Linked DNA regions of Homo sapiens. The protein of the gene in region 1 interacts with the protein of each later gene in a biochemical or structural test. Each region holds a gene or a part of one and is shown in the gene's direction. Other genes may lie near its edges.

The links. The genes of interacting proteins can lie anywhere in the genome.
Region 2: the proteins of UBE2D2 (region 1) and BIRC3 form a complex in vitro, tested with the Homo sapiens proteins (9 studies listed by BioGRID and IntAct, with this or other methods).
Region 3: the proteins of UBE2D2 (region 1) and RBX1 form a complex in vitro, tested with the Homo sapiens proteins (50 studies listed by BioGRID, with this or other methods).

Annotation. Positions count from the first base shown.
Region 1 is NC_000005.10:139,619,824-139,627,683, forward strand, and holds part of UBE2D2 (ubiquitin-conjugating enzyme E2 D2), read left to right. Parts: intron 1-3,544; coding exon 3,545-3,638; intron 3,639-6,932; coding exon 6,933-6,978; 3' UTR 6,979-7,860.
Region 2 is NC_000011.10:102,313,548-102,320,913, forward strand, and holds the start of BIRC3 (baculoviral IAP repeat-containing protein 3), read left to right. Parts: upstream 1-3,936; 5' UTR 3,937-4,024; intron 4,025-7,366. UniProt on the Homo sapiens protein: Multi-functional protein which regulates not only caspases and apoptosis, but also modulates inflammatory signaling and immunity, mitogenic kinase signaling and cell proliferation, as well as cell invasion and metastasis.
Region 3 is NC_000022.11:40,961,378-40,968,807, forward strand, and holds part of RBX1 (E3 ubiquitin-protein ligase RBX1), read left to right. Parts: intron 1-2,669; coding exon 2,670-2,740; intron 2,741-6,421; coding exon 6,422-6,507; intron 6,508-7,430. UniProt on the Homo sapiens protein: E3 ubiquitin ligase component of multiple cullin-RING-based E3 ubiquitin-protein ligase (CRLs) complexes which mediate the ubiquitination and subsequent proteasomal degradation of target proteins, including proteins involved in cell cycle progression, signal transduction, transcription and transcription-coupled nucleotide excision repair.

The DNA of each region.
Region 1 (7,860 bases):
TTGCACTCCAGCCTGGGCAACAAGAGTGAAACTCCGTCTCAAAAAAAAAGGAGGTTTAATTGGCTCACAGTTCTGTGGGCTATACAGAAAGCATGGCAGCATCTGCTTCTGCGGAGTCCTCGGGAGCTTTTACTCATGGCAGAAGGCAAAGGGGGAGCCACCTGTCTCACATGGCAGTAGCAGGACCAAGAGAGAGATGGGGGAGGTGCCACACACTGTTAAACAGCCAGATCTCATGAGAACTCTATCACAAGAACAGCACCAAAGGGGTCGTGCTAAACCATTCATGAAGGATACACCCCCATAATCCAGTCGCCTCCCACCAGGCCCCACCTCCAACGTTGGGGATTACAGTTGAACATGAGATTTGTGTGGGGACACAGATCCAAACCATATCAGTATATTAGAAACCAAAATGAATTCTTCATGAAATCAAGAAGCTAAGTAGTGTACTAAAAATCTTTTCACAAGGTCCAGATAGCCAGTACTCTCCTTTCCTGGAAAGAAAGAAAAGCCCTTTCTTTAAAACCTGTCCTTTAAAGTTGACTTATTAGAATATTTAGAAGAATAAGTTAAAGGAACATTCAAAAATTTCTAACTTCCCTGTTGTCATTTCCAGGAAATACATGAAGTCTTTCCTAATTGATGTTAGAATGTTCTATGCTTGAAGAGGGCTTCAGGTGATGACACCTGACAATAGGAAAATGTTTTTGGAATGCCAGCTGCCAGAATTGTGGGTAACAGGAATGAAGAGTCAGAAAACATCTCTCCTGATTTTTTAAAAAAACTTTTCATATACTCTTAAGGCAAGGAAATAGCATTTTTGTTACCAAACTGAATAGGGCATGCCAACTATTTCTTTACTTCTCAGAAGCCCTTGATCTCTATAGGATAGATTTGGTAGGAATATGAGCGAATCCTTTCCCTGCTGAATTTATGTGTTGGGAGTAAAATGGGCTGAGAGTTATTATCTCTTGGTACAGAACACCTATTAGAGAAAAGAAAGATGGCTGAGCTCTATTAGCATTAGTATAGAAGGATTTAAATTTATTTTGTCAGAGGCTACTGAACTTAATGTAATCAGTGACTTTATGCCCCCTTTGCATTCAGTAAGGAATGCATAAGTTAATGATAGATATGGCCGGGTGTGGTAGTTCACGCCTGTAATCCCAGCACTTCGGGAGGCCGAGGCAGGTGGATCACTTGAGCCTAGGAGATCAAGACTAGCCTGGCCAACATGGCAAAACCCAACCTCTACAAAAAATACAAAGAAAATTAGCTACACATGGTGGCACTCACCTGTAGTCTTACCTGGAGAGTGAGGTGGGAGGATGACTTGAGCCCAGGAGGTTTAGGCTGCAATGAGCCAAGATCATGCCACTGCACTCCAGCCTGGGCGACAGAGTGAGACCCTGTCTCTAAATAAATACATACATAAATAAATAAATATTTTAAAACATAAGTTAATGACAGATTTGAACAAAGGAAATTACACTATTGAGATTTGTCTGCTACATCCCAGGTTGTCACCGAGGAAATGGCTTAGATGAGATTCTAAATTGTCACTGAAGAGAATTTGAGACATTCATAGAAGTATGTTGTATTCTCTGTAATGAGTGTATGACCATCCCCATTTAGGGGCAAGTGTTTGCATTTATGTTCTTGATTTAGACTGAATTGTTTTCAACTGAAAATTAAACAAAACAATTGTCTGAATGTGGTGCCTGCCACTGGAAAACAGTGATTGTTGGATTTTATGGTTGTCGTTTTTGCTAAGAATATTCAGTAGTGTGGCTGTCTTTTTTTTTTTTCTTTTTGAGGCAGGGTCTCACTCTGTCACCCAGATTGGAGTGCAGTGGTGTGAACACAGCTCAATACAGCCTTAACCTCTTGGGCGTAAGTGATCCTCCCACCTCAGCCTCCTGAGTAGCTGGGACCATAGGAGTGTGCCACCACATCCAGCTAATATTTTTATTTTTTGTAGAGACAGAATCTCACTCTGTTGCCTAGGCTGGTCTCAGACTCTTGGCCTGAAGCGATCCTTCTGCTGTGGCCTCCCAAAGTGCTGTGATTACAGGAGTGAGCCATCGCACTTGGAATTTTGAAAGCCATTTATCCTTGAATATGGGCTTCTAAAAAATTGAACTTTATGGGATCTGAAAAATGTTCTTGGTCTAGAATTTAGACAAAGTTCTAATTCTATTCTAATTACTAGCCAGGGACATTGAACACGTCACTGCACCTGTCTGGGCCAGCTCCCTTAGGAGTTCAGGCATAAAGACAGTCATATCAACTCTTCTTACATCATGGGATTGTTGTGAGACTTTGCACAAAGGGGCTTATATTTGTATCTGGGAGACCAAGATGTCATTTAACATTAATTTTCTGCTATTTGTTTTATTTTATTTTTTATTTTTTATTATAATTATTATTTTTTGGAGATGGATTTTTTGCTGTGTCGCCCAGGCTGGAGTGCAATGCTACGATCTCGGCTCACTGCAACCTCCACCTCCCAGGTTCAAGCGATTCTCCAGCCTCAGCCTCCTGAGTAGCTGGGACTACAGGCACACACCACCACGCCCAGCTAATTTTTGTATTTTTAGTAGAGATGGGGTTTTACCATGTTGGCCAGGATGGTCTCAATCTCTTGATCTCGTGATCCACCCCCCTCCGCCTCCCAAAGTGCTGGGATTACAGGCATGAGCCACTGCAGCCAGCCTTCATTTTTATTTTTTAATGACCTAACCTAAAGTCTGTTTAAGCTTCTTAAAATCCTTGTTGGTAGGCTGGGTGCAGTGGCTCACGCCTGTAATCCCAGCACTTTGGGAGGCCAAGGTGGGCGGATCACGAGGTCAGGAGATCGAGACCATCCTGGCTAACACGGTGAAACCCCCGTCTCTACTAAAAATACAAAAAATTAGCCGGGCGTGGTGGCGGGTGCCTGTAGTCCCAGCTACTCAGGAGGCTGAAGCAGGAGAATGGTGTGAACCTGAGAGGCGGAGCTTGCAGTGAGCCTAGACCGCGCCGCGCCACTGCACTCCAGTCTGGGCGACAGAGCCAGACTCCGTCTCAAAAAATAAAAAATAAAAAAAACTATTTGCCAGGTGTGGTGGCTCACGCTTGTAATCCCAGCACTTTGGGAGGCCGAGGCGGGTGAATCACGAGGTCAGGAGTTCCAGACCAGCCTGACCAACATGGCGAAACCCCATCTCTACTAAAAATACAAAAATTAGGCCAGGCATGGTGGTTCAAGCCTGTAATCCCAGGACTTTGGGAGGCCGAGGTGGGTGGATCACCTGAGGTCAGGAGTTCGAGACCAGCCTGGCCAACATGGTGAAACCCCAATTCTGCTAAAAAAAAAAGAAATAATAATAATAATAATAATCCTTGTTGGTTACTGTTAATATAAAGTTAAGTAAAACTTACAAAGCTGCTAGGCATTACAGTATAAATTCTTAGAATTTTCTCATGTTTTGGCGTCTCATGTTTCTCTCAACCCTTTGCTTTGATCCTCTGCTAATTTATATGATTTTTTTCATTCTAGTACTCTTGTCCATCTGTTCTCTGTTGTGTGATCCCAATCCAGATGATCCTTTAGTGCCTGAGATTGCTCGGATCTACAAAACAGATAGAGAAAAGTAAGTATGGCCTCAAGATGGAAAGTTATCTGTGGTGGGATGGAGATGTTTGTCACAAATCTTTCTTGTTTAAGGGCTGAATATCGGCCAGATATTTAAAGTGAAGTCCTAATATACTCTCCTGGGGCTAGAAAAGAGAAATATATGCATTGAGTATTATTATAAGTAGATGATGCCAGTCTTATCCCTGATTGTTTCACGTGACTCCTCTTGTCTACAAAAACTTTTTTTTTTGTTTGTTTTTTTTTGAGACAGGGTCTTACTCTGTCACCCAGGCTAGAGTGCAATGGTGCAGTCTTGGCTCACTGCAACCTCCGCCTCCTGGGTTCAAGTGATTCTCATGCCTCAGCCTCCCGAGTAGATGGGATTACAGGCGCAGGCCACCACGCCAGGTTCGTTTTTTTTGTAGTTTTAGTAGAGACTTTTACCATGTTGGCCAGGCTGGTTTCGAACTCCTGACCTCAAATGATCTGCCTGCCTAGGCCTCCCAAAGTGCTGGGATTACAGGTGTGAGCCACCACACCCATACAAAAACTTTCCTATGGTATATTTTTCAACAGCTTAATGCCTTATGCTTGGCTTTTGATATATAAAGCACTTTTCATCAAGTGCCCATTTGCCTGCCATAGGTATTTGTCAATTAATGGGAAAAGAGAATTGATTTCCTACCATTTGACATAATCTAAAGGAAGAAAGCAAATAAATGCCATTAGACGTGAAAGCCCCAAATTTCTTTTAAAAACAAAACTTGATGTAGAATTTGGGTATTTTAGAATTGTACTATGAATTATTGAACAGTGGTCAAGATATCAAAAGAGATAGTAGCTAAAAGTGTTCTAGTAGCATTTTTTCTTTTCTTTTTTTCTTTTGAGATGGAGTCTTGCTGTGTTGCCTGGGTTGGTCTCAAACTCCCTACCTCAGCCTCTGGAGTAGCTAGGATTATAAGCATGCCCACCATGCCCAGCACTAATAACATCTGTTTTATGTAGTATTCAGTGAAGTTATAAGAGGAACTAGATAGGAGAGGGTGGATAGTTCTTTTAGGGCCGGGCGCAGTGGCTCACGCCTGTAACCCCAGCACTTTGGGAGGCTGAGGTGGGCAGATCACAAGGTCAGGAGTTTGAGACCAGCCTGGCCAACGGGGTGAAACCCCGTCTCTACTAAAAATACAAAAATTAGCCGGGCATGGTGGCGGGCACCTGTAATCGCAGCTACTCGAGAGGCTGAGATAATTGCTTAAACTCAGGACGTTTAGGTTGCGGTGAGCTGAAATTGCACCACTGCACTTCAGCCTGGGCGACAGAGCAAGACTCACGTCTCCAACTTGAGTTCTAGTGGATTAGAGAGGCATAGATACGTTTTTGTTTTTAGTGGAGGTAACACTGGGAATGGGATATTCTAACAGTAGTTGGTTCTTGCTTTTTCCTATTTGTGAATTTATTGTCAAATTTTTTTGATTAGAGAACTGTTTTGTCCGATATTTAGAATTGTGGGTCTGAATGCTTACCAGAAGTCATTTCCCAAGTCATCATGGAGTAATGTTGAACACTGTTGAACAGAACTTTCCCAAACTGCACTGCCCCCACCCTCTAACCCCCCACTTTTTTTTTTGCAGAGACAGGGTCTTGTTCTTCAGCCCAGACTGGAGTACAGTGGCACAATCGTGGCTCACTGCAGTGTCAAACTCATGGGCTCAAGTGATCCTCCCACCCCAGCCTCCCCAGTAGCTGGGACTGCTAGTACATGCCACTACACCTTTCCAGCCTCCCCAGTAGCTGGGACTGCTAGTACATGCCACTACACCTGGCTAATTTGTTTTTTTTTTTTTTTTTTTGTAGAGACAGGATCTCACTATGTTGCACAGGCTGGTCTCTAATTCCTGGCCTCAAGCAGGCCTTCTGCCTCAGCCCCCCAAAGTGCTGCTGTTACAGGCATGAGTTACCGTGCAAGGCCAGCATACCCACCCCCACCCCCCCCCCTTTTTTTTTTTTTTTTTTTTTGAGGCAGGGTCTTGCTCTGTTGCCCGGACTGGAATGCAGTGGCACAATCACAGCTCACTGTAACCTCAACCTCCCAGGCTCAAGTAGTCCTCCCATCTGAGCTTCCCAAGTAGCTGGGACCACAGGCAGATGCCATCACATCCAGCTAATTTTTTTTTTTTTGAGACAGAGTCTTGCTCCGTTGCCCAGGTGGAATGCAGTGGCACAATCTTGGCTCACTGCAGCCTCTGCCTCCCAGGCTCAAGTGATTCCTGTGCCTCAGCCTCCTGAGTAGCTGGGATTACAGGCGCACATCACCATGCCTGGCTAATTTTTGTGTTTTCAGTAGAGACGGGATTTTGCCATGTTGGCCAGGCTGGTCTGGAACTCCTGACCTCAAGTGATCCAGCTGCTCCAGCCTCCCAAAGTGCTGGGATTACAGGCGTGAGCCACCACACCCGGCCTAGCACCCGTTTTTTAATAGGAGAATTATAGAATCATTTGCTCTGCTTACTTTATTCAAATGTTCTTCTGAAGCAATAAACCCATTCATTTTGTCAACCAAATTGTTGAAATTAGTTCTACCAGAACCAATTGTTTTATTGATATGAAAGGAAAGTTTGGTTTTTTTTCCCCCTTTTTTTTTGAGACAGAGCCTCACTCTGTCACCCAGGCTATGGTACAGTATTGCAATCTCAGCTCACTGCAACCTCTGCCTCCTGAGCTCAAACGATCTTCCCACCTCAGCCTCCTGAGTAGCTGGGACTATAGTCATGCGCCACCACACCCTGCTAATTTTTGTATTTTTTTGTAGAGACAGGGTTTTATCATGTTGCCCAGGCTGGTGTGAAACGCCTGGGCTCAAGTGATCCACCCGACTCAGCCTCCCAAAGTGCTGGGATTACAGGTGTGAGCCAACATGCCCAGCCTTCTGTCGGTTTAATCATTATTAGTATATGAGTTCAAGAACTATGTAATGTAGAATCATATAATTTCAAGTACTTTAAATGAATGAATTGAGTGGACATCTTTTGTAGAAATAGGCCAATCAAGTATGGAATAAGGTATATGCCAACAAATACTAAAATTTAATCAGAACCCTCTATAAGTAGCAATTAAAGGAGACTTTCACATTTTACAGCTCCTTCCCATTATCATTGAATTAATCCTTATCAGAAATTTGGGATAGAAAGGGGCCTTTCCTTGAATGTCCTATAAGCTACTCTCTTCAAGTTACTTGATGGGATAATGAATGGAATCTGTTGCTTACTGACTCCACACCTATGTTAAGCCAAGCTTCTCTTTGTGTGTACAGGTACAACAGAATAGCTCGGGAATGGACTCAGAAGTATGCGATGTAATTAAAGAAATTATTGGATAACCTCTACAAATAAAGATAGGGGAACTCTGAAAGAGAAAGTCCTTTTGATTTCCATTTGACTGCTTTCTATGAGCCCACGCCTCATCTTCCCCTGTGCACATGTTTACCTGATACAGCAGTGCTGCGTGTTGTACATACTTGGAACAACAAACTAGAAATACTGTACTTCTGTACCAACATTGCCTCCTAGCAGAGAAGTGTGTGTGTGACAAGCCAGTTCTACAGGCATTACCTAGGTGTGAGACTAAAAGCTTTTCTTATTGACTTAAATTTGGATAACAGCAAGGTGTGAGGGGGGTGGTGGGTATGGTGTGTGCTTGGATGGGAAAGAAAAGGCTCCACTCACCTATAGGAGATTATTTTTAAGTGGAATCCATTTAAACTCAAAACAGTTATGAAAAGCAAGGTGAAGAACATGAAGCTGTGTCTGTATTCATTTTATTCCGAAGGAGCTACGTCTTAGGTGAAAGTTATGACCAACCAGATTAAACTCTACCCACATCCTGCATTTTAAGGTCTAAGTTTAACTGGTCAACATTTAAATGGATTGGAGCTATTAGTACATCAAGTGTGATGGGCTTTGTTCCCAACTCTTTTACATCTCCCTACCCCTTCAACCTTTGGCCTTTCAGCCCTTCTTTCTCTCTTCCATATTCTTTGGTTTGTATGTGGTTTCTCAGTTAATACATAGCTAATAGCTCTTATTTTTCTTATGTTTTTAACCGCTTAGGTCTATTTGGATGTAAGGGTGAAAATTCATTTGATGGAAATACTTGTGTATATTTAAAGACCCAATTGCTCCTCTGGAGCTTGTACTTTCAAGAATGATTAATCTGTGTAATAAACTGGTTACTACAGTCAT
Region 2 (7,366 bases), on another chromosome or scaffold:
ACCACAAACAAACCTAGAAAACTGAAGATAGTAATGGCTATACAGTTTGTGTCTAGCTTTCACTTTCCTCAAAGGTTTCCTTGTGTATTTCTGTCGTGAAAAGAGTATTTGGAGCTTGGAATTCACTGGCTTGGAAGAAAATAAGAGTATTTGGAGAGAAAATATATTTAGGCTGTGCTTGCTTTGGCAGCACATATACTAAAATTGGAACCCTACCAAGAAGATTAGCATGCCCCCTGCACAAGGATAACAGCTGGATGTTGAAAGGAAAAGAGGAGTTTTTTTAATAAAGTATGTGAGATATACAAAGAGTTAGAAAGAAAATGCAAGGTAGGTTACACCATTAAAGATGTGGATGCAGGTTTAGAATAGAGAAAGCCCAAGTGGATAGTTTGGATAGATTGGCTCTATTTTTGTTAGTCAGTAAACAAAGGTTTACTGAGCACCTTTGAGCAGACACTCTACTAGTACTAGAATAATGCAGTGAACAAATATATACAGTGCTTGCCCATACACATTTATCTAGGGAAACCATTTTTTTTTTAATTGTGCAAAATGTTGCAAAGCAGACATGTTAATTTGCTTCCAACCTACTAGGCCTGACCCTAGCTCTCATGACCAGTTTGAAAAACGCGAGACTCAGTCAATTCAGGGATTTCTTAAGCCATGGTCTTTATTTATTTTTATTTATTTACTTTTTTGGCAATGGATTCTTGCTCTCTCTCCCAGGCTGGAGTGCAGTAGCGAGATCTCAGCTCACTGTAACCTCTGCCTCCCCGGGTTCAAGCAATTCTCCTGCCTCAGCCTCCCAAGTAGCTGGGATTACAGGCACCTGCCACCATGACCCGCTTATCTTTGTATTTTTAGTAGAAATGGGGTTTTGCCATGTTGACCAGGCTGGTCTCGAACTCCTGACCTCCGGTGATCCACACACCTCAGCCTCCCAAAGTGCTGGGATTACAGGTGTGAGCCAATGTGCCTGGCCAGCCATAGTTTTTAAACTGGGGTAAGTGTGCCCCTGGGTGTTTACAAAGACTTACCAACAGGGAGGTGGGAGCTCAAATAGTTTTAAGGAATTAATAGTCTCACTCTCAACTTCCATATGTAGCTTCTCCCAAAACTGATCTGCTTGAAAACAAGAACTGTGAAGGTTGCCAGGGTTGTTCTGTCTTCTCATCTCCCTTTTCACAATGGTTCTCTGTCTTCCCTTAAAAGACAGGCTCACCTCTCACCTATCATGAGTTTTAAAATCGTATATTTCTCTGGGTGTAGAAACCTCCTGGATGATTTGAAATAATCGATCTGTATTAGTGTTGAGAAAATGAATGACTCTAATATCTGGATATAGGGTTGCCAGGTAAAATACAGAACACCAAACTGAATCTAAATTTCAGATAACTAATGAATAACTTATTAGTATAGCTAGGTGCCAAATATTGCACAATACATTCTTATACTGGAAATGCATTCATTGTTTATATTAAACCAAAATTTAACTAGGTGTTCTCTGTTTTAATTTGCTAACTCTGTCAACTGTATCTGGATACCAAAAGTTCAGTGGTTTCTAAACCACCAATTTCAACAAAATTGAGTTGTCTACTGATAAGTAATTACATATTTTGATTAGAGATCACTAAATGATTTTTGGAATATAAAACATATTTTTTAAATTGTGAAAAAATTGCCATAATAATGTTTCTTCTGGGCCTATCTACTTATCTACTTACTTCTGTGAAATAAGGTTTACAACATTTATGTCTGTAGAAATGAAAAAAGGAACAGAATCTGTGCTGAACCCTAACATATTATAGCTATAGGTAATATTCATGACTGCACACTTGAAAAACTTGCTTAAAATACAAGCTGCCACCCCCTTAAATTGTATTTGTAATGCAGTTATTAACATTTACGATATTTTTATATTGTATTGACCAATTATGCTTTAAAAGTAATGAAAACAATATCAATGATAATGTAATCAAAGAGGATTTTTTTTTTTTTTTTTTGAGATGCAGTCTCACTCTGTTCCAGGGCTGGAGTGCAGTGGCACTGTCTTGACTCATTGCAACCTCTGCCTCCCAGGTTCAAGTGATTCTTGTGCCTCAGCCTCCCAAGTAGCTGGGACTACAGGCGTGCACCACCACACTTGGCTCATTTTTGTATTTTTGGGAGAGACCGGTTTCACCATGTTGGCCAGACTGGTCTTGAACTCCTGACCTCAGATGATCCACCCACCTTCGCCTCCCAAAGTGCTGGTATTATAGGCGTGAGCCACCATGCCTGGTCAAAGAGGAATTTTTTTTTTTTTTAACACTTAGATCCTTATGATCCCAGAGAAAAAAATAGATTTCAAGTTCTAATATGTATTTGTTTCAGAGATATGTGACAGAGAGATGATAAAAGATGTTCAGTACAAACATGTATTAACATTCTGTAGGGGAATTGGAATGTTCAATGACAAAAGGCAATGATAAAATATTTTCAGTTATTAAAGATGACCTGATAATTGCTTCATGGATGATCATGTATGTCAAATTACTATGGTATTAGGATCCATCAAATACATTTAAAAGAGTGCTCTATCAATTTTTTCTGAAAATATCTATGTTTACATTTTGTAGATTCTTGACATGTACAAGAGCTTTATGTTTTAATGTTAAGTTAAAAATGGGCAAGGGAATGCAGAGCTTTTCAAAATTCTTCTGGTGAGTACATAATCAAAAATGTGTAAGGCCTGCAAATTATTTTCAATAATCTCAGGAGTGAGTTGAAAATGGCTTAGAAAGTCTTGATTGAAGCAGACTCAAATGTGGATTAAAATCTCCATATGATAAATACACTTAGTCTTTCTGAAATAATTCCAACTGGAACTTCAGCTGCTATGGACAGCCAAGTCCACCTAAACAAGAGGATGCCTCAGCTCAGTCCAATTGCGTGCAGAATGCACTGGATGCTGTTTCCACAGAACGATGAAGTCTCCAATAATCTTTATGGGCTCTGTCTCTGGTTGGTAATTGTCTTTGATCTACTGGAAGATAGAAAATCAGATGAGCTCTCCAAATCCATCTGTTACCCTGGTACGGATGGCTCTCAGATAAAGTTGCTTAAATTTACTGCTTAGAGAACGTTGAGGGAAATATGGCAGTGCAATTAGACTCAAAGATGTCAGGTTTCCCTGAGAATGGCACTGCAACTCAGAAACCTGCCCTGTGAGATCAAAGGCTATAAAGGAGGGATTTTTTTAAGTAGCCAACTCCACCCTACTTATTAAAAAAAAAAAAAAAACAACTCACCAAACCAAACAAAAGTATTTCCATACAGAAAATTTACCAAGCCATTTCAATCTTTAAAATGGTAAAATAAACTGCAAAGGAGAACTGCATGATTTTTTTCACATACCCCTACATTTCCTTTCACCTCTTACTTTCTTGATCAGAACAAAAAGTAAAAATAAATAGAAATATTTCACAAAGTTTCGATTTTTTTTTTTTTAAATGCTGGACTTCTGCAGCTATAGTAGAAGATTGAAAAACCTAACCTTTTTACGTGTAAAGTGTATGGCGGATGGAGGGTGGAGAACAGGGCATATTGACCTTTTCCAGGCAGGCTAAGCAATGATCGTCCTCTCTATATGGGTTGTTATCAAGATTTCCTCTGACCCACGAGCAATGAAGCAAATGTCTTTCAGTAAATGCCGCGAAGATATGCCACGGTTAAGAGTCATGCTTTTGGGTCATGGAAATCCCCGAGTGGGTTTGCCAGGCCACTGATTAAGAGGAAGTGTGTGTGGTTATTACCGCTGGAGTTCCCCTAAGTCCTAAAAGGAAAGCACCAGTGCACATGCAAACCACTGGGAGGAGTGCGGAACGCCTGGTACAGATAGGGGTGGGGATTTGGGTGACGCATTTAAAAGACAGCGTGAGACTCGCGCCCTCCGGCACGGAAAAGGCCAGGCGACAGGTGTCGCTTGAAAAGACTGGGCTTGTCCTTGCTGGTGCATGCGTCGTCGGCCTCTGGGCAGCAGGTGGGCAAGGAAGGCTGGTGTGTGTGTGTGTGTGTGTGCGTGTGTGTGTGTGTATGTGTGCGCGCGCGCGCGCCTCCCCTGGTGTAAGAGATGTGCCAGCGGCTGGCCGAGGGGCGCTTAGGGCTAGAGCCCGGGGCGCTGCAGAGGTTGAGAGTCAGTGGGTGGGGCGCAGTTATCAAACACCAGGGCCCAAAAGCAGGCTCTAGATAGGTTCCAGGTGCTCAATTTCTATTTCACGTTTGGAGTGAGCCAGTGGAATTGTGAAGTTGTGGCATTTTGATTCGGTTGCCAAGAGTTATCACTGGGCCTTTGCAGGTGCCAAATAAATTTCAGGACAGAGCCTAAGGCAGAGCTCTGGCACAGGAAGGAAGTAAAACGTTTAATGAGCAAATGGACGCATGTTTCCAAGCGGTGGTAGGAAGACAGCAGTTTTTGGTTGTCTTCCTGGTGATCAGCATGGAAACCTAGTAGTGCTCTTACTCTGATCAATACATTGTCGAAGGCATGTACCTGATGCTAACGTAACAATAATATTAAATATTGACTTTATTTGCTATTATTTATTGCTAACATTAAGTACTGCTACCTGCTATGTGCTAGGTTTGTCTCTGAAGACTTTACATGTATTTTTCACGTTTAATTATCATAATCTTAAGAAGCAGGTACCATAATTATCTCCATTTGACAATGAGGAAACTGAGGCTCTTGGAGATTTACTTGTGCAAGGTCATGCTTCTGGTTACCGGACTGCTTGGTATTGGGCACCCCCGATGTCTGACTCCAAAGCCTGATACTAATCAATCACTGAGCTGACTCTGTGGTCATTAATATAAAATTGATAGAAGTACTGTGGTCACTCAGGTCTCAGTCATTTACTTCTTCAACGGGAAGTCTTCGTGTCTACCCCATATACCAAGCTCTGCAGATGCTATGAGTGGGAGGGCAGGTACAGAGATGAAACATATTAATAGTTGCCATTCTAAAAGAGCTTACTGTCTAGCGGGAGGCAGAAAGAAAAGGCACACTTGCCCTCCAGTGTCAGAAAAATGGATGTGCTGCATGCCCAAAGGGTAGGGATGCCCAACAGCCCTGGGACTGGGGAGGTTGCCTTCTTGGTAGGTTAAATGAATGAGTCAGAAGAGGAGAGGCTGGGGACTGAGCCAATCTGAGAAGGAACCACTAGAAATGAAAGAAGAATCCCAAGAGCTTGGTATCAGAGAAGCCCAGGGAATGGGACATTTCTAAGAGGAAGTGTGTCCCAGTGTCAGATGCAAACATTTCCATTGGTTTTAGCAAAAAAGCCATTGGTGTTATTAACACCGAAAGCAGTTTTAAGTGATGCTGACTTAATGAGTAAATGGGAGAGGGAAAATGGAGACATTAACCATACACACATGTCCAGTTTGCTTGGCTGTGAAGAGAAGGGGTGATACAGGGTAGTTGCTAGAGTGGAAAGTGTGGTTGAAAGAGGATTTTTTTTTTTTTTTTTTGAGACAGAGTCTCACTCTGTCACCCAGGCTGGAGTGCAGTGGTGCAGTCTCGGCTTACTGCAACCTCCACCTCCCGGGTTCAAGCGATTCTCCTGCCTCAGCCTCCTGAGCAGCTGGGACTACAGGTGCATGCCACCACACCCGGCTAATTTTTTGTATTTTTTTTAGTAGAGACGGGGTTTCACCGTGTTAGCCAGGATGGTCTCAGTCTCCTGACCTCGTGATCCACTCGCCTCAGCCTCCTGAAGTGCTGGGATTACAGGCATGAGCCACCACACCCGGCCGAAAGAGAATTTTAAAAATTTCTTTCATTTGAAAGTTGAGATAGATTTAAGCATGGTTATGTGAAAGGAAAAAGGCCAGTCGAGAGTGACAGGAATGAGAGTTGAAGCAATGAGGGGATGGGATTAAGAACAAGATTTCTGAGGCAGTAGGACAGTGTAGGATCCCATAAGGGGGCAAGTCTTTAACTGAGACAGCAAGTAGGTTGTGAGCCAAAACGGCTTGGATATGAGAACGTGAGAAGGTTCCTGCTCAATGATGTCTCTTTTCTTTGAGAAACAGAAGGCAAAGTAATTGACTGAAAATGAGATGGAGTGCAGTGGAGAAATTTGAGGAAGGTGTTGAAGGTTTAGAAGAGGTGCATAGGGCATGGGCTAGGGAGCTGAGCCTATTGCTAAGGGATGGCAGAGGAGTCTTAAGTGATGCTGGTCCCAGTCTGCAGGGTTGCATCTAGGTGTTGGAAATGATTAGGACAGAGGTTGAAGTGATCTAGGGTTGACATCTTGGCATATTTGTGTATATTTATTGTATAGTTGTTGCCTAAATTTCCACAAATATATGCCTTGCTGGAGTGCAGTGGTGTGATCTTGGCTTACTGCAACCTTCACCTCCCGGGTTCAAGTGATTCTCCTGCTTCAGTCTCCTGAGTAGCTGGAAATACAGGTGCGTGCCACCACGCCCGATGGTTTTTTTTTTTGGATTTTTAGTAGAGACAGGGTTTCACCATGTTGGCCAGCCTGGTCTCGAACTCCTGATCTCAAGTTATCTGCTTTCCTTGGCCTCCCAAAGTGCTGGGATTACAGGCGTGAGCCACCACGCCTGACCTAAAGCTTCTTTAGGATAAGATTTGTGTAAGGGGTTTGCAAACTCAAATGGAGGTGATATAAATGAGAAAAACTCTCAGTGTCTCTCTTTCTCTCTCTCTCTCTTTTTTTGAGACAGGGTCTTGCTCTGTCACCCAGTTTGGAGTGCAGTTATGCAGTCTCACACTGCAAGCTCTGCCTCATGGGCTCAAGTGAACCTCCTGCCTCAGCCTCTCAAGTAGCTGGGACCACAGGCAGGTGCCACCATGTCTGGCTAATTTTTGAGTTTCTTTGTAGAGATGGTGTTTTGCCAAGTCACCCAGTTTGAGGCTGGTCTCAAACACCTGGGCTCAAGCAATCCATCTACCTCAGCCTCCCAAAGTGCTGGGATTACAGGAGTGAGCCATGGCATGAGGCCTTGTGGGGTGTCTCTTTTAAATGAAAGCATACTCTGTTTACGTATTTGATATGAAGGAATATCCTTCCTTTCCACAAAGACAAAAATTATCCTATTTTTCTCAAAACATATGTCCTTTTTCTCTACTTTTCATTTTTGTTACTTTTGATGGACACATGTGTTACATTGATTTCACTTTCTCATAATTCTGCTGTAAGAAAAACAATAGTGCCAGTTCAATGACAAATAGCAACAGTCTGTTATTGCTAGACTGTTACTGTTAGTGGAGACTACCAGAACAGTCAGTCCCAGTGTCAGGGAATCAAAGAGAACATGTTCCCTCTCTAAAGGGCACAGCTGCTGCTCAGCT
Region 3 (7,430 bases), on another chromosome or scaffold:
CCTGACCCAATTCTTTATTTTTATTTTATTTTATTATTTTTATTTTTATTTTTTGAGACAGAGTCTCGCTCTGTTACCCAGGCTGGAGCGCAGTGGTGCGATCTTGGCTCACTGCAAGCTCCGCCTCCCGGGTTCACACCATTCTCCTGCCTCAGCCTCCTGAGTAGCTGGGACTACAGGTGCCCGCCACCACGCCTGGCTAATTTTTAAATATTTTTAGTAGAAACCATGTTAGCCAGGATGGGCTCGATCTCCTGACCTCGTGACCCACCCGCCTCAGCCTCCCAAAACGCTGGGATTATAGGCGTGAGCCACCGGGCCTGGCCCCAATTCTTTATTTTTATCAGTTGGCAAACCAAGTTACTCTGTAGTGTGAATCTGGCTAGCAAAAGTAAGTGCTTTGCTTTCTCTGTGTGTGTGTGTGTGTGTGTCAGCCTTACTCTGTCACCCAGGCTGGAATGCAGTGGTGTGATCTCGGCTCACTGCAGCCTCTGCCTCCTGGGTTCAAGTGATTCTCCTGCCTCAGCCTCCTGAGTAGCTGGGATTACAGATATCCACCACCATGCCTGGCTAATTTTTGCCTTCTTAGTAGAGAGGGGGTTTTGCCATGTTTGCCAGGCTGGTCTCGAACCCTGACATCAAGTGATCCGTCACCCTCGTCCTTCCAAAGCATTGGGATTGCAGGCGTGAGCCACTACTCCCAGCCTTTTATGGTTTGTTTGTTTGTTTGTTTGTTTTTTGAGACAGAGTCTTGCTCTTTTGCCCAGGCTGGAGTACAGTGGTGTGCAACTTCGGCTCACTGCAACCTCTGCCCCTTGGGTTCAAGCAATTCTCCTACCTCAGCCTCCCAAGTAACTGGGATTGCAGACATGTACCACCATGCACCACTAACTTTTGTATTTTTAGTAGAGATTGGGTTTTGCCGTGTTGGTCAGGCTGGTCTCGAATTCCTGACTTCAGCCTCTCATAGTGCTGGCATTACAGGTGTGAGCCAACATGCCCGGCCCACTTTCCACATTTTCGAAGAGTGAAAAGAAAAAGGTATTATCATGGTATCTCTTCCCCTAAAACCACACATGCCCATTAACATCTAGTTTTGTTTTTTTTAATAGTTTTACTTTTTTTTTTTTTTTTTTGAGACAGAGTCTCACTGTGTCACCCAGGCTGGAGTGCAGTGGCGCAGTCTTGGCTCACTGCAACCTCTGCCTCCCGGATTCAAGCAATTCTTCTGCCTCAGCCTCCTGAATAGCTGGGACTACAGGCGCCCACCACCACACACACCTGGCTAATTTTTATTTATTTTTTTATTTTTATTTTTATTTATTTATTTTTTGAGACGGAGTCTTGCACTGTCGCCCAGGCTCCAGTGCAGTGATGCAATCTTGGCTCACTGCAAGCTCCGCCTCCTGGGTTCAAGCAATTCTCCTGCCTCAGCCTCCTGAGTAGCTGGGACTACAGGCACCCGCCACCACGCCCAGCTAATTTTTTTTTTTTTTTTTTAGTAGAGACGGTGTTTCACTATGTTGGCCAGGATGGTCTCAAAGTCCTGACCTCATGATGTGCCTGCCTCGGCCTCCCAAAGTGCTGAGATTACAGGAGTGAGCCATCGCGCCTGGCCTACTCCTGGCTAGTTTTTCATATTTTTAGTAGAGACAGGTTTCACCATGTTGGGTGGGCTAGTCTTGAACTCCTGACCTCGTGATCCGCCTGCCTCAGCCTCCCAAAGTGCTGGGATTACAGGTGTGAGCCACCACGCCCAGCCATAGTTTTACTATTTTTCACCTGTAGTAGTTTGAAGTAATTCTCCCCTATTAAATAGTTTCTCCTGAAGCTTTTTATTCTTCAGAAGGGAGACTCCATTTAGTTACTATGATCAGAGAAAGCAAGTTATGCATTAGTAATTCTTGTTCTGTGAATATTTATCCCCAGTTGTGCTTTACCCATCAGATCTTGATCTCAGTCAAGAACTCATTGCAGGCCAGGTGCGGTGGCTCATGCCTGTAATCCCAGCACTTTGGGAGGCTGAGGTGGGCGGATCACCTGAGGTCAGGAGTTTGAGACCAGCCTGGCCAACACGGAGAAACCCCATCTCTACTAAAAATACAAAATTAGCCAGGCATGGTGGTGTGCGCCTGTTAATTCCAGCTACTTGGGAGTCTGAGACACGAGAATCGCTTGAACTCGGGGGGCGGAGGTTGCAGTGAGCCAAGATTGTGCTATTGCACTTCAGCCTGGGCAACAAGAGGGAAACTCCATCTCAAAAGGAAAAAAACTCAGTCTAGGCAACATGGTGAAACTCCATCTCTACAAAAAATACAAACAATTAGCTGGTGTGGTGGCACGCACCTGTAGTCCCAGCTACTCAGGAGGCTGAGGGAGAATCACCTAAGCCCAGGAAGTCAAGGCTGCAGTGAGCCATGCTCATGCCACTGCACTGTAGCCTGGGCAACGGGAGTGAGATGTGCATTTCCCATTTGTTACTCTTTTTAAACAAGGATAGGAAATCGTCAGAAAGCATACTGTTATCTCTGTCTTCTCTGTTCTTCCTTTCCCACATTCATTAAAAAACAATTATGGCTAATTAACCACTTGAGAATTGTTTTGGCTGCTATAGATTGAAACGTTGCTGCTCCCAAGGTCCAGTGATCCTGTTGCTCTTGTTCCCACAGGCATAGAATGTCAAGCTAACCAGGCGTCCGCTACTTCAGAAGAGTGTACTGTCGCATGGGGAGTCTGTAACGTAAGGAAGCATCTTTACCTGTCAGCATGGCTTGTAAACATATTTCCACTTTTCCTGCTTTGCTAGTCTTGAAAATAACTAGGGAAAAAAATGACTAGTCCACCTTTCTCCCAAAAGGTATACAAATAGTAAAAAAGATTTTAAATCATAATACTATTCACCTGTTACAGGGTAAAAATTACAGTTACTGCAAAGAGGCACTTATTTGTCTTAATTATAAAGTGGACCCAATTTTGTTAGCAGTATTTTGGGGCTTCATCTATGGGAATTGCCTTCAAAACCTACATGCACCCTTTGGAATATTCTCGTGGTAGAACTTTGTACCTTTGAAACAGGCTTTTTTAAAGACCAGGTGTCTAATGGAACTAAGTTTGATGAGTAAATTGAGTGTTGAAGTCTCTGTGTATGTGTGTTTTAAGTGTGGCGTATGTACTGAGATAAGATTATTTTTTAACATGGCTTATGCCAGAAATGTTTTGTGTAGCTTTATTGGACTGAATGGCCTTCCAAGAGTGTGACAGCTGTGAAGGATAACAAATATCAAATATGTTAGTTCTAGCATGTGTTAAAAATTCATTCTTTAAGCTGTAAAGTCCCAGTCACATGAGCTAAAATTGTCTTGTCAGGGCCTCCTGTGTCATGGGGACAGAATACTCACAGTTCCCAGCATGACACAGGGATAAGAGATTCTAGAGTCAGACCACCATTCCCTGTCTTTGTGACTTACTTGCTAAGTGACGTTAGGCAAGGCATTTAACGTCTCCAATCCTGGGTTCCCTCATAAAATGGGGCTGATAGTGGACCACATAAAATTGTAATCCGGATTAGATGATTTATGTTAAAATGTGATTAAACAACTCCCGGCACATAGTAAGCACAAGTGCTTGTTAAAAAAAATCTAAATAGGCCGGACGCGGTGGCTCACGCCTGTAATCCCAGCACTCTGGGAGGCCGAGGCGGGTGCATCATGAGGTCAGCAGATGGAGACATCCTGGCTAACACAGTGAAACCCCGTCTCTACTAAAAATACAAAAAATTAGCCGGGTGTGGTGGCAGGCGCCTGTAGTCCCAGCTACTCGGGAGGCTGAGGCAGGAGAATGGCGTGAACCTGGGAGGTGGAGCTTGTAGTGAGCCGAGACCACACCACTGCACTCCAGCCTGGGTGACAAAGTGAGACTCTGTCTCAAAAAAAAAAAAATCTAAATAAATACAAATTTGAGGTAGAGGTGTTACTGTGTAGATGGTGTTCTCAGTAGTTTTTCCTGTTGGGTTGCAACTCTTTTTCCTACCTACACTGGTTTTTTGTTTTTTTTTTTGTTTTTTGTTTTTTGTTTTTTTTTTGAGACGGAGTCTCACTATGTGGCCCAGGCTGGAGCGCAGTGACGCAGTCCCGGCTTACTGCAACCTTTATCTCCTGGGTTCAAGTGATTGTCCTGCTTCAGCCTTCCGAGTAGCTGGGATTACAGGTGTGTACCACCACACCCAGCTAATTTTTGTATTTTTAGTAGAGATGGGGTTTCGCCATGTTGGCCAGGCTGGTCTTAAACTCCTGACCTTGGGGCGATCTGCCAGCCTCGGCCTCCCAAAGTGCTGGGATTACAGGCGTGAGCCACCGTGCCCAGCCCCTACCCGCACTTTCGGGTACACCTTCTTCCATCTTTGTTGGGACCCTTTGGCCAGGCTCACAATAGACCATGTTGGCCATGGGGGAGCTTTAATCGTTCATGGGGATAAAGGAAGTATATTGGGCTCTTTGCCCTTTCTGGCATACAGACATATACTAAGAACCATGTTCCTTTATGTGGAAAGAAAAGAGAGTGAACATCCCCTTAAATTTGGCTAAGGAGAGATTCTCTGAGAGAGCCTGCCGTAGAAGAGAGCCAGCATGGTGTGGCAGAAGGCTCTGGATTAGTCCTGGGTTCTAGTTCTGGGTCTTCTACAAACCAGCTCCATGAATTAGGCAAGTCACTTGTCTGGGTTTCAGTTTCCTGTCTGTAAAATGAAGATAAAAATATCTGTCATGCTTGCCTGCCAGGGTTGATGTGAGGCCTCAAATGAGGTAATACATGTCAACATCTTCTGTAAACTGTCAAGTACTATAAATTTATCTTCTGTAAATTGTACTTTGACCGCTAAATATATCCATTAATACATCTTAGTAAATGTTCAGGGGTGCTGTCACCTCCCTGACACCTCCTTTACAGCCCCCTTTTCCCCAGCGCGTGGTATGCTCTGACTTAGTTGGGCTCTACCAGGACACCGTACTGCTGCAAAGTGCTCAGTGGGTGAGGTGGGAGAGGGAGAAGCTGTCGAATACCCTTCGGTGAGCCCGACCCCAACACCTGATGGTTAAGAAAAATGTCTCTGCTTTCTGCCTTTTGGAAATTTTGCTCTTTCTCTTTTTCACAGTGAGTTATACAAGAGTCAGCTGAAAAGGGATCTTCCAAAAGGCTGTCACTCTAAGAGAATATTTGTCCTCTTGGGTATCCCTAGTGTACTAGCTGTGGATTCCACTCTTAGTTACTGAATTATATTTTTGTCTTTGTCAAAAAACATTTCACAAGATAATAATCCATATTATATAATCCCTTAAGTTCCATACATACTTTGGGAGACGTACCGACCAGATTTCAGTTGTTATTAAATGAAGCTTGTAAAGCTTTTGTTGTTTTGTTAGGGTGAGTAATTTCTGCCCGTGCCCCACCACAGTGCACCAATCACAGACGAAATGAAGGAAGCACTTGCTGCGTCTGTCCTAATACGCACATGAGCAGGGGGAGAAGTGCTCATTGCAGAAGCATTGTGATTAGCATCTGCATGTCATGAGCCCACGCCAAAAAACTGCATGCAGATTGTCCTTTTCCCAAATCTAAGCAGACTTCTAGCTCCCTGTCAGTTACCAGTGTTCTTGATACTCTTGTCTTTTTACTTCTTGTCTTGATTATGAAATAAGCCTTTTGATGCTCTTTAGGCTGCTTGTGTGCCGTTTGTCCCTCATAAGAATACTTCCTTTTACCCCAATTTTCTTTTATCTCATTCCCTAAGACAAAGTCCCTCACCCATTAAAGGCACGTGAAGTACTGAGCTCTTGTAATATCAATATGTCTGTGAATAAATCTAGAAATAAAGTTTCTTTGACCAGAGCTGAGCTGGGTGTGGGGAGGTTGGGGAAGTGCCCGTCTCAGTTCTGGGTGGGCGGCAGTGACCATGCACTTCTCTACCAAGGGCTGGGGAGAAGGCTCTGCTCCTACAGGTCGCATTCTCCAGGGGCAGGAGGGTGGGAGGGAAGCTAGAGACCCAGAATGGGGATATTTGAAATCTGCATTGATGAGGGGCCTCCTTTCCCAAAGAAAGTGGAAGTATCCCCTTACAGGCTGAATGGGACCAAGGAGCCACATTCCACGTTCTCTTAAATAGAAGAGAGCTCAGTGCTGGCACATACTCCTGTGCTTCCTGAATGATTTCCTTTAGTAGTAATGACATTTCTAACAAATGCTTTGTTGGAAATACCCTTGCATCTAACCAAGATATAATCAGTTGTTGAACTTTTGCCTCTCGTTGTCTTCTTTTCTTTTCTTGCCCACTATATGTCACCCATGCCACTACCCTGTGGGACCTGTTGTCGCTCGATGGCTGAGCCTGCATAGAGTTATTTTTAATAAAATATATGTTTTCTTTCAGCATGCTTTTCACTTCCACTGCATCTCTCGCTGGCTCAAAACACGACAGGTGTGTCCATTGGACAACAGAGAGTGGGAATTCCAAAAGTAGGTATCTTTGGTTGTTTTGACGGGGCTTTTTGACTTGCCTCAGGCTGAAAGGAGCGTGGTCTTGGGGGATGGAGACATGATACATGCCTTGTTTTTTTTAAAACTAGTTTTTGGTTACTTAAGCTAGGACTTATCTATATGGAAAATGCACAAAGGATTAGCCAACATTAGACATTTGCAGCCTAGGGTTTCCCAACCTTTTTTTTTTTTTTTTTTTTTTTGAGACGGAGTCTCGCTTTGTTGCCCAGGCTGGAGTGCAGTGGTGCTATCTTGGCTCACTGCAACGTCCACCTCCCAGATTCAAGCGATCCTCCCACCTCAGCCTAGCAAGTGGCTGGGATTACAAGTGTGTGCCACCATGCACAGCTAATTTTTGTATTTTTCGTAGAGATTGGGTTTCACCATGTTGGCCAGGCTGGTCTTGAACTCCTGATCTCAACTGATCTGCCTGCCTCGGTCTCCCAAAGTGCTGGGATTACAGGTGTGAGCCACCGTGCCCGGCAGGTTTCCCAACCTTCTACGGTCTGTGAAAGTAGAAAATGTGATAATCTATGAACTCTTAAATATTTCCAGAATTACATCCTAATGAGGCTCCATGGACTACCTAATGTCAGGTAGCTTTGGGCTAGACTTGTATCCACTTATCATATTTCACTGGTTTATTTCACAGTGATTAATTCTGATATAGCATTTATGGCTATCCTGATTAGATTTTATTGTTATATAAATAAAACATGACCTGGTAAACTTTTAAAAATTTAAATGGTTGAAAGGGTATACCACAGAATATGAATTTCCCACTGTAGGCCCCTGCTCCGGCTTGCTGGAGCTAGCCATCAGCAACAGGACAGCTTCTTAGGAGATTTTCTGACTATCTCTTATATGTCCCGGTATTTACATGGTTGTGTGTATATATATAT